Homo sapiens: one gene and its partner. The protein of the gene in region 1 interacts with the protein of each later gene in a biochemical or structural test. Each region holds a gene or a part of one and is shown on either strand. Other genes may lie near its edges.

What was found.
Region 2: the proteins of GPI (region 1) and AMFR form a complex in vitro, tested with the Homo sapiens proteins (one study listed by BioGRID).

What each region holds. Positions count from the first base shown.
Region 1 is NC_000019.10:34,371,453-34,375,476, forward strand, and holds part of GPI (glucose-6-phosphate isomerase), read left to right. Parts: intron 1-4,024. UniProt on the Homo sapiens protein: In the cytoplasm, catalyzes the conversion of glucose-6-phosphate to fructose-6-phosphate, the second step in glycolysis, and the reverse reaction during gluconeogenesis.
Region 2 is NC_000016.10:56,408,546-56,412,045, forward strand, and holds part of AMFR (E3 ubiquitin-protein ligase AMFR), read right to left. Parts: intron 1,044-3,500; coding exon 879-1,043; intron 1-878. UniProt on the Homo sapiens protein: E3 ubiquitin-protein ligase that mediates the polyubiquitination of lysine and cysteine residues on target proteins, such as CD3D, CYP3A4, CFTR, INSIG1, SOAT2/ACAT2 and APOB for proteasomal degradation.

The DNA of each region.
Region 1 (4,024 bases):
GCTGTTCAGGATGGACTGGGAAGTTGAAAAAGGAAGTTGCAGAATTGGTGGGTATGGTAAAGACTCATTTGGTCAAATGAAGGCTGGGTGTAATTGTAATAAAGATAGACACATTTGGCTTGGTGCAGTGGCTCACACCTGTAATCCCAGCACCTTGGGAGGCCGAGGTGGGTGGATCACGAGGTCAGGAGTTCAAGACAAGCCTGGCCAACATAATGAAACCCCATCTCTACTAAAAAAAAATACAAAAAAGTTAGCCTGGCATGGTGGTGCATGCCTGTAGTCCCAGCTACTCGGGAGGCTGAGGCAGGAGAATCACTTGAACCCCAGAGGTGGAGGTTGCAGTGAGCCAAGATCACGCCACTGCACTCCAGCTTGGGCAACAGAGTGAGACTTTGTCTCAAAAAGAAAAAAAAAAAGACACATTTTTCCTCTGGGATGCTTCATTATAACAAACCTTTGACAGTCGGGAAAGGAGACTTGCTTTTTTTTTTTTGAGACAGAGTCTTACTCTGTTGCCCAGGCTGGAGTGCAATGGCGAGTTCTCGGCTCACTGCAACCTCCGCCTCCCAGGTTCAAGCAATTCTCCTGCCTCAGCCTCCTGAGTAGCTGGGATTACAGGCATCCGCCACCACACCCAGCTAATTTTTGTATTTTTAGTAGAGATGAGGTTTCACCATGTTGGTCAGGCTGGTCTCGAACTCCTGACCTCAGGTGATCCACCCACCTTGGCCTCCCAGAGTCCTGGGATTACAGGCATGAGCCACCACACCCAGCCAAGACTTGCTTTTTCTAACCTCTTTTGTCACACGCCTGTGAGGGAGGGTTGAGAAGTTGAACAACTTATTTTATTTCTTTCTGTATTGATGGAAATTTTCCCATGGCAGTTTATTTAAAGAAAAAGTAGGGCCAGGCACAGTTGCTCACATCTGTAATCCCAGCACTTTGGGAGGCAGAGGCAAGAGGATTGCTTGAGGCCAGGAGTATAATACCAGCCTGGGCAACATAACAAGACCCTGCCTTTAACAAAAATTTAAAAATTAGCCAGCTGTGGTGGTGTGTACCTATAGTCCTGGCTGCTTAGGAGGCTGAGGCGGGAGAATTGCTTGAGCCCAGGAATTTGAAGCTGCAGTGAGCTATGATCATACTCCTACATTCCAGGTCGAGCAACAGAGCGAGACCCTGTCGTTAAAACAAAACTAAAAAATACCCAGCAAGGTGCAGTGGCTCTTGTATAATCCCAGCATTTTGGAAGGGTGAATCGGATCACTGCAGGCCAGGAGTTCAAGACTAGCTTGGGCAACCTAGACCCTGTCTCTTTTTTGTTTGTTTGTTTTTTGAGACAGAGTCTCTCTCTTTCACCCAGGCTGGAGTGCAATGGCCTGATCTCGGTTCACTGCAACCTCCGCCTCCCAGGTTCAAGCGATTCTCCTGCCTCAGCCTCCCGAGTAGCTGGGATTACAGGTACCTGCCACCACACCCAGCTAATTTTTGTGTTTTTAGTAGAGATGGAGTTTCACCATGTTGGCTAGGCTGGTCTCGAACTCCTGACTTCATAATCTGTCCACCTCAGCCTCCCAAAGTGCTGGGATTATAGGCGTGAGCCACCGTGCCCAGCCTATTTTTTTTTTTTAATTAAAAAATAATTTATAGTCTGGGTGCTGTGGCTCACACCTGTAGTCCTAGCACTTTGGGAGGCCGAGGTGGGCGGATCACTTCAGGTCAGGAGTTTGAGACCAGCCTGGCCTACATGGCAAAACCCGTCTCTACTAAAAATACAAACAAAATTAGCCAGGAGTAGTGGCAGGCGCCCATAATTCCAGCTACTCAGGAGACTGAGGCAGCAGTATCATTTGAACCCATGAGGTGGAGGTTACTGAGAGCTGAGATGGCGCCACTGCACTCCAGCCTGGGTGACAGAGCGAGACTCTGTCTCAAAAAAAAAAAAAAAATTTATAACTGGGCATGGTGGTGCATGCCGGTAGTCCCAGTTACTTGGGAGGCTGAGGCAGGAGAATCGCTTGAACCCGGGAGGTGGAGGTTTCAGTAAGCTGAGATAGCACCACTGCATGCCAGCCTGGGTGACAGAGCAAGATTCCATCTCCAAAAAAAAAAAAAAAAAAATTAAAAGAAAATTGCTGGATCTTATTAGTGTATAGTAATTTTTTATTGATGTGTGGGAAATTATTCCAAAATTTAGCAACTAGAAGCAACAATCACCGTCTCTTTATGTGGGGAATTTGCAGTGGCTGTGTTTGGTGTAGTGGCTCTGATATTCTAAGGTTGCAGTCAAGATGTTGGCTAAGGATGTGGTCATTTGAAGGCTTCATGGGGGTTGGAGGGTCTGCTTTGAAGATGGCTCACTAGCAGTGCTGCCTTTGGGAGGCACAGACAGTTCGAGTGTCCTCATGACAAGGCAGCTTATTTCTCCCAGAGTGAGTGATCCAATAGAGAGTAAGGCAGATGCCTGGAGGTCTTTTGTGACCTAATATCAGGATTCACATTCTTTCTTTTTTTTATTTTTATTTTTTTGAGACAGAGTTTCACTCTTGTCACCCAGGCCAGAGTACAATGGCGTGATCTTGGCTCACTGCAACCTCCGGTCCCCGGCTCAAGCGATTCTCCTGCCTTAGCCTCCTGAGTAGCTGGGATTACAGGTGCCCGCCACCATGCCCGCCTTTTTTTTTTTTTTTTTTTTTTTAAATTTTTTTAGTAGAGATGGGGTTTCACCATTTTGGCCAGGCTGGTCTTGAACTCCTGATCTCAAGTGATCCGCCTGCCTTGCCCTCCCAAAATGCTGGGATTACAGGGTGAACCACCACGCCCGGCTACACTCTTTGATTTCTATAATACCCCGTTGGTGTTACAGATCAGCTCTGGTCATCATGGGAAGGGACTGCATCAGTGGGTTAATGCCAGGAGACAAGGACCACTGGTCACCATCTTAGAAGGTGGGGGACTATCATAGTCCCGCTTCTGGCGCCTAGTGATTGATTTTGTTCCTTCCACACACAGATACCCCACTCACTTTCTCCTAAGTCCATATTCTGTTACAGTATTAGAAGTCTGTTAGAAGTCTAGAACCTCATTTTGTCAAGTACAGGTGTAGTAGTACCTGCATTTCCTTTAGTACAGTTCCTTTCAATCTGAAGACATGAGAATTTAAAGAGACAAATTACCCCTCACACACCCAGCATACAATGGTGAGGTGGGCATGGGATGACTGGTATGTATGGGATAATTATTTCTTTTCTTTTCTTTCTTTTTTCTTTTTTTCTTTGTTTTTTTTTTTTTTGAGGTAGGGTCTCACACTGTCGCCCAGGCTGGAGTGCAGTGGTGCAGTCACTGCTCACTGCAGCCTCGAACTCCTGGGCTCAAGCAATTCCCCACCTCAACCTTCTAAGTTGCTGGGACTACAGGCACATGTCACCATGCCTGGCTACTTTTTTATTTTTTGTAGAGATGACGTCTTGCTATGTTGCCCAGGCTAGTTTTAAACTCTTGGCCTCAAGTGATCCTCCTGCCTCAGTTTCCCAGTAAGTGCTGGGATTATAGGCATGAGCCACTGAGTCCGGCCTGCATATTTAGGTTTTTATTATGACCACACTGTACTTCTGATACCAAAATCTGTATTAGTTATCTATCATTGTATAACAAATGACATCAAAACTTGGGTTAAAACAGCAATACACTTTTTTTTTTTTTTTTAAGACGGAGTCTTGCTCTGTCGCCCAGGCTAGAGTGCAATGGCGTGATCTCCACTCACTGCAACCTCTGCCTCCTGGATTTAAGCAATTCTCCTGCCTCAGCCTCCCGAGTAGCTGAGATTACAGGCACACGCCACCATGCCTGGATAATTTTTGTATTTTTTTTTTTTAGCAGAGACGGGGTTTCACCATGTTGACTAGGCTGGTCTCGAACTCCTGACCTTGTGATCTGCCTGCCTTGGTCTCCCAAAGTGCCAGGATTACAGGTGTGAGCCACCATGCCCGGCCTAGCAGTAAACTTTTATTACCTCTCACAG
Region 2 (3,500 bases), on another chromosome or scaffold:
AAATGCAATCCAGGCACAGGTTTACCACTACTACAACGTGATGTCAGCATTATGCAAGGAGAGGCAACAGTCTGAAAAGAAGGCCTAGAGCTGCAACTCCTGAGGTCACAGGCGGAGATTAAAAAAAACAGTTTGGGAGGTTAGAAGCTCCTGTTTGTGACTTCAAATGAGGGTTGAATGTGAAAGAAATAAAGGCTGTGAGAGTGAGATTAACTCAAACCAAGGTGCAAGGTCCATGTGGACTGGGTAAAGACAGGGAAAAACAAGGCCCTGGAGCGGGTTTAACTGAGGGGCAGCACTGTAGATGCACATTTATCTGGGACTCATGAGACTACTTCAGGTCACTAATGGGTTGAAGGTTCACTCATACAGCTATGATCTGAAACCAAGTGACAGATCTTGTACCAGACATAAAATGATTCACTTCGCAAACAAGGAAGCTGAGGGAGCTAATTCAGTCCTGGCCCGGGGTGGAAATAGTATAAACTACTCAGAAAGAAGAGCTCCACGAACCAGAGTAAGCTGGGAGAGACAGAAGGAGACTAGAACAGAAAATATCTAGAAAAGACCAGATTTTATTGTTTATGTATCAAGGTTTCCTTGCACTGTGAACAAAACAGTCTGCATAGGTGAAGTGACCCCATGTTAGCAGTAAGTAAACACTATGGGGTTGGGAAGAAAGCTCCCCAGGAGACAACGATTCTGCATCTCTTGGCTGCTGTAGAAAGTTCTTCAAGAAACAGGCAATGGGGGCCTGATCTAGAAGTCTTCCCAGAAGAGCTACCCTGACCATGCCTGCTGTGGCTCATTCACATTACACAATTCAAAGTTGGCAAACGTGGTGACTAAGCAAGCAAAAAGCTTGGCTAAAAACTCACATATTCAAATCGATCCTTGCAGAGCTGAACCATCAGGTGCAGAAAGACAAGTCCGGCAAACCAGAGGCACCACATGACCACCTCTTCCACTGTCTGGACATTCAGCACACCAAAGATGAAAATGAACTTGTAGAAAATAAAATTCCAAAATTTGTCTTTGAGATGCTAAAAAAGAAAAATGTTTATGAAGGTGAGTACCATCACACCTACCCCATTTGAGGGAAGTTACCATAACAAAAGCCGGCTTCTATGGAAGATATATTCTGCACTTGGCTTTCTAATACTTGTCCTCAAGAAAACAGAAAAAAAAAAAAAAAAAAAAAAAGCAGCCATCTGAAGAATGGAGGTAAGACACCCAGAAACTAATCTGTAAACTTTGGACTATAACCCTAAATCAATTATGGAATGTTAGCTATTCAAAGGATAGCGATATTAGTTTAGTAACTTATATATTAAGAAATAGGCCAGGCGCAGTGGCTCATATCTGTAACCCCAGCACTTTTGGAGGCTGAGGTGGGTAGACAGCTTGAGCTCAAGAGTTTGAGATGAGCCTCGGTAACATGGGGAAACCCCATCTCTACCAAAAAAAAAAATACAAAAATTAGCTGGGAATGGTGGTGCACACCTGTAGTCCCACCTACTCAGGAGGCTAAGGTGGGAGGATTGCTTGAGCCCAGGAGGTCAAGGCTACAGTGAGCCATCATCATGCCACTGCACTCCAGCCTGGGTGACAGAGCAAGACCTTCTCTCAAAAAAAAGAAAAAAATGCTTACATTTTTAATGCACAATGAAAAAGAATGGCAAGGGCTATCATTTTTACTACTTCTACCTTCCAGATTCTTACACAATAGAAAAGATTAGACTTTGTAAAAAAAATTCTTCAAATTAAAAAATAACACAACACAACCACTTGCCAGCCCATAATAAAGGCGGCATAAAAAGTACAAAGAAAATGAAAAATGCTGCCTTAACATTTTTATGAATTTTCTTGTCTTTTCCCTATGTACAAAACACATTACTTTTTGTACAATGCTTTCTTTCACCTATTGTATTGTTAGAACCTTAACAATGTCAATGAATATTCTCTGAATATACCAATATACCGTTTCAATGGCTAAAGATGGACACTGAAACTGTTTTAAAATTTTCACCACGCAAAAAAAACATTATAATGAGGGCCGGGCGTGGTGGCTCATGCACGAAATCCCAGCATTTTGGGTGGCCAGGGCAGGCGGATCACTTGAGCCCAGGAGTTCGAGACCAGCCTGGGTAACATGGCAAAATCCTGTCTCTACTAAAAATACAAAAATTAGCTGAGCATGGTGGCACAAGCCTGTAATCCCAGCTACTTGGGAGGCTGAGGCATTAGAATTGCTTGAACCTGGGAGGTCGAGGTTGCAGGGAGCCATGATCATGCCACTGCACTCCAGCCTGGGCAACAGAGCAAGACTCTGTCTCAAAAAAAAAAAAAAATTGTGATGAATATTTTTGTATGTATCTTTGTATGAGTTACTTCAGCACTGTCAAATCAAAAATTGCAAAGATTTTTATGGTTTATAGTAAAATCTACCTAACTTCCAAAGCAGTCCTGTAAGTGTACATTCCCATGGGCAGTGTGTATGCATATTTGCTTCACTGTACTCTTTTACACAGAGGGCTTCCAGTTTTAACAATCTTCACTAACCCTGAAATAGGAGAGCAATAAGGAGGGTCTAGTTCCCCCACATGTTAAAATAGACTATCAAGCCGTCTAGGGGGGTCAGGGAGAACTGACTGAAGAGGATAAGAATGGAAGCATGATTCTAAGTATACTTTTTTTTTTTTTTTTAAAGAGACAGAGTCTCACTCTGTCATCCTGGCTGGAGTGCAGTGGCCCAGTAGTAGCTCACTGCAGCCCCAAACTCCTGCGCTCAAGCGATCCTCCCACCTCAGCCTTCTGAGTAGCTGGGATTACAGGCACATGACATCATGCCCGGCTAATGTTTTTTATATTTATATTTTGCAGAGATGGGGCCTCCCTCTGTTGCTAAGGCTGGTCGCAAACTCCTGGGCTCAAGTGATCCCACCTTGGTCTCCCAAAAGAATGCTTTTATATGTAATTTGGAACCATGTAAATGTTTCACAAATTCAAAAAATAAACACAAAAAAGCAAAATATACTACAAATTAACAACGTGACTCCTTAAAGATTTTGAGAACTTAAACACACTGTACTCTGACCAGATATCTTTTGTAGAGAACAAAATAAAGTGGAAAAAAATCATAGAGTATGCCCTAATTCTATCCATCAAAAGGGCAGAGACACCCTAGTGGTAATGAGCACACTCAGCCAGTATACAGCTTGGCTTCTAAATATCATTGCCCAATAACGTGAACTAGGAATCGTTGGTGAAATGTCTGTTTCCAGACCTGGTGCAGGGAAAGTACAAGGTGAACTTAGGACATTTTGTGCCCTGGTTTTGAATGACACTGCCACTTGGCTCTGCCATTTAGTTTCTGTGTGACCTTGGGAAAGTCACTTAACATCCCTGTGCTTTAGTTTCCTCATCCATACAATAGGTCTTATAATAACAGCATATACCTCATAGAATTGTTGGGGGAATTATACATAATATATGTGAAA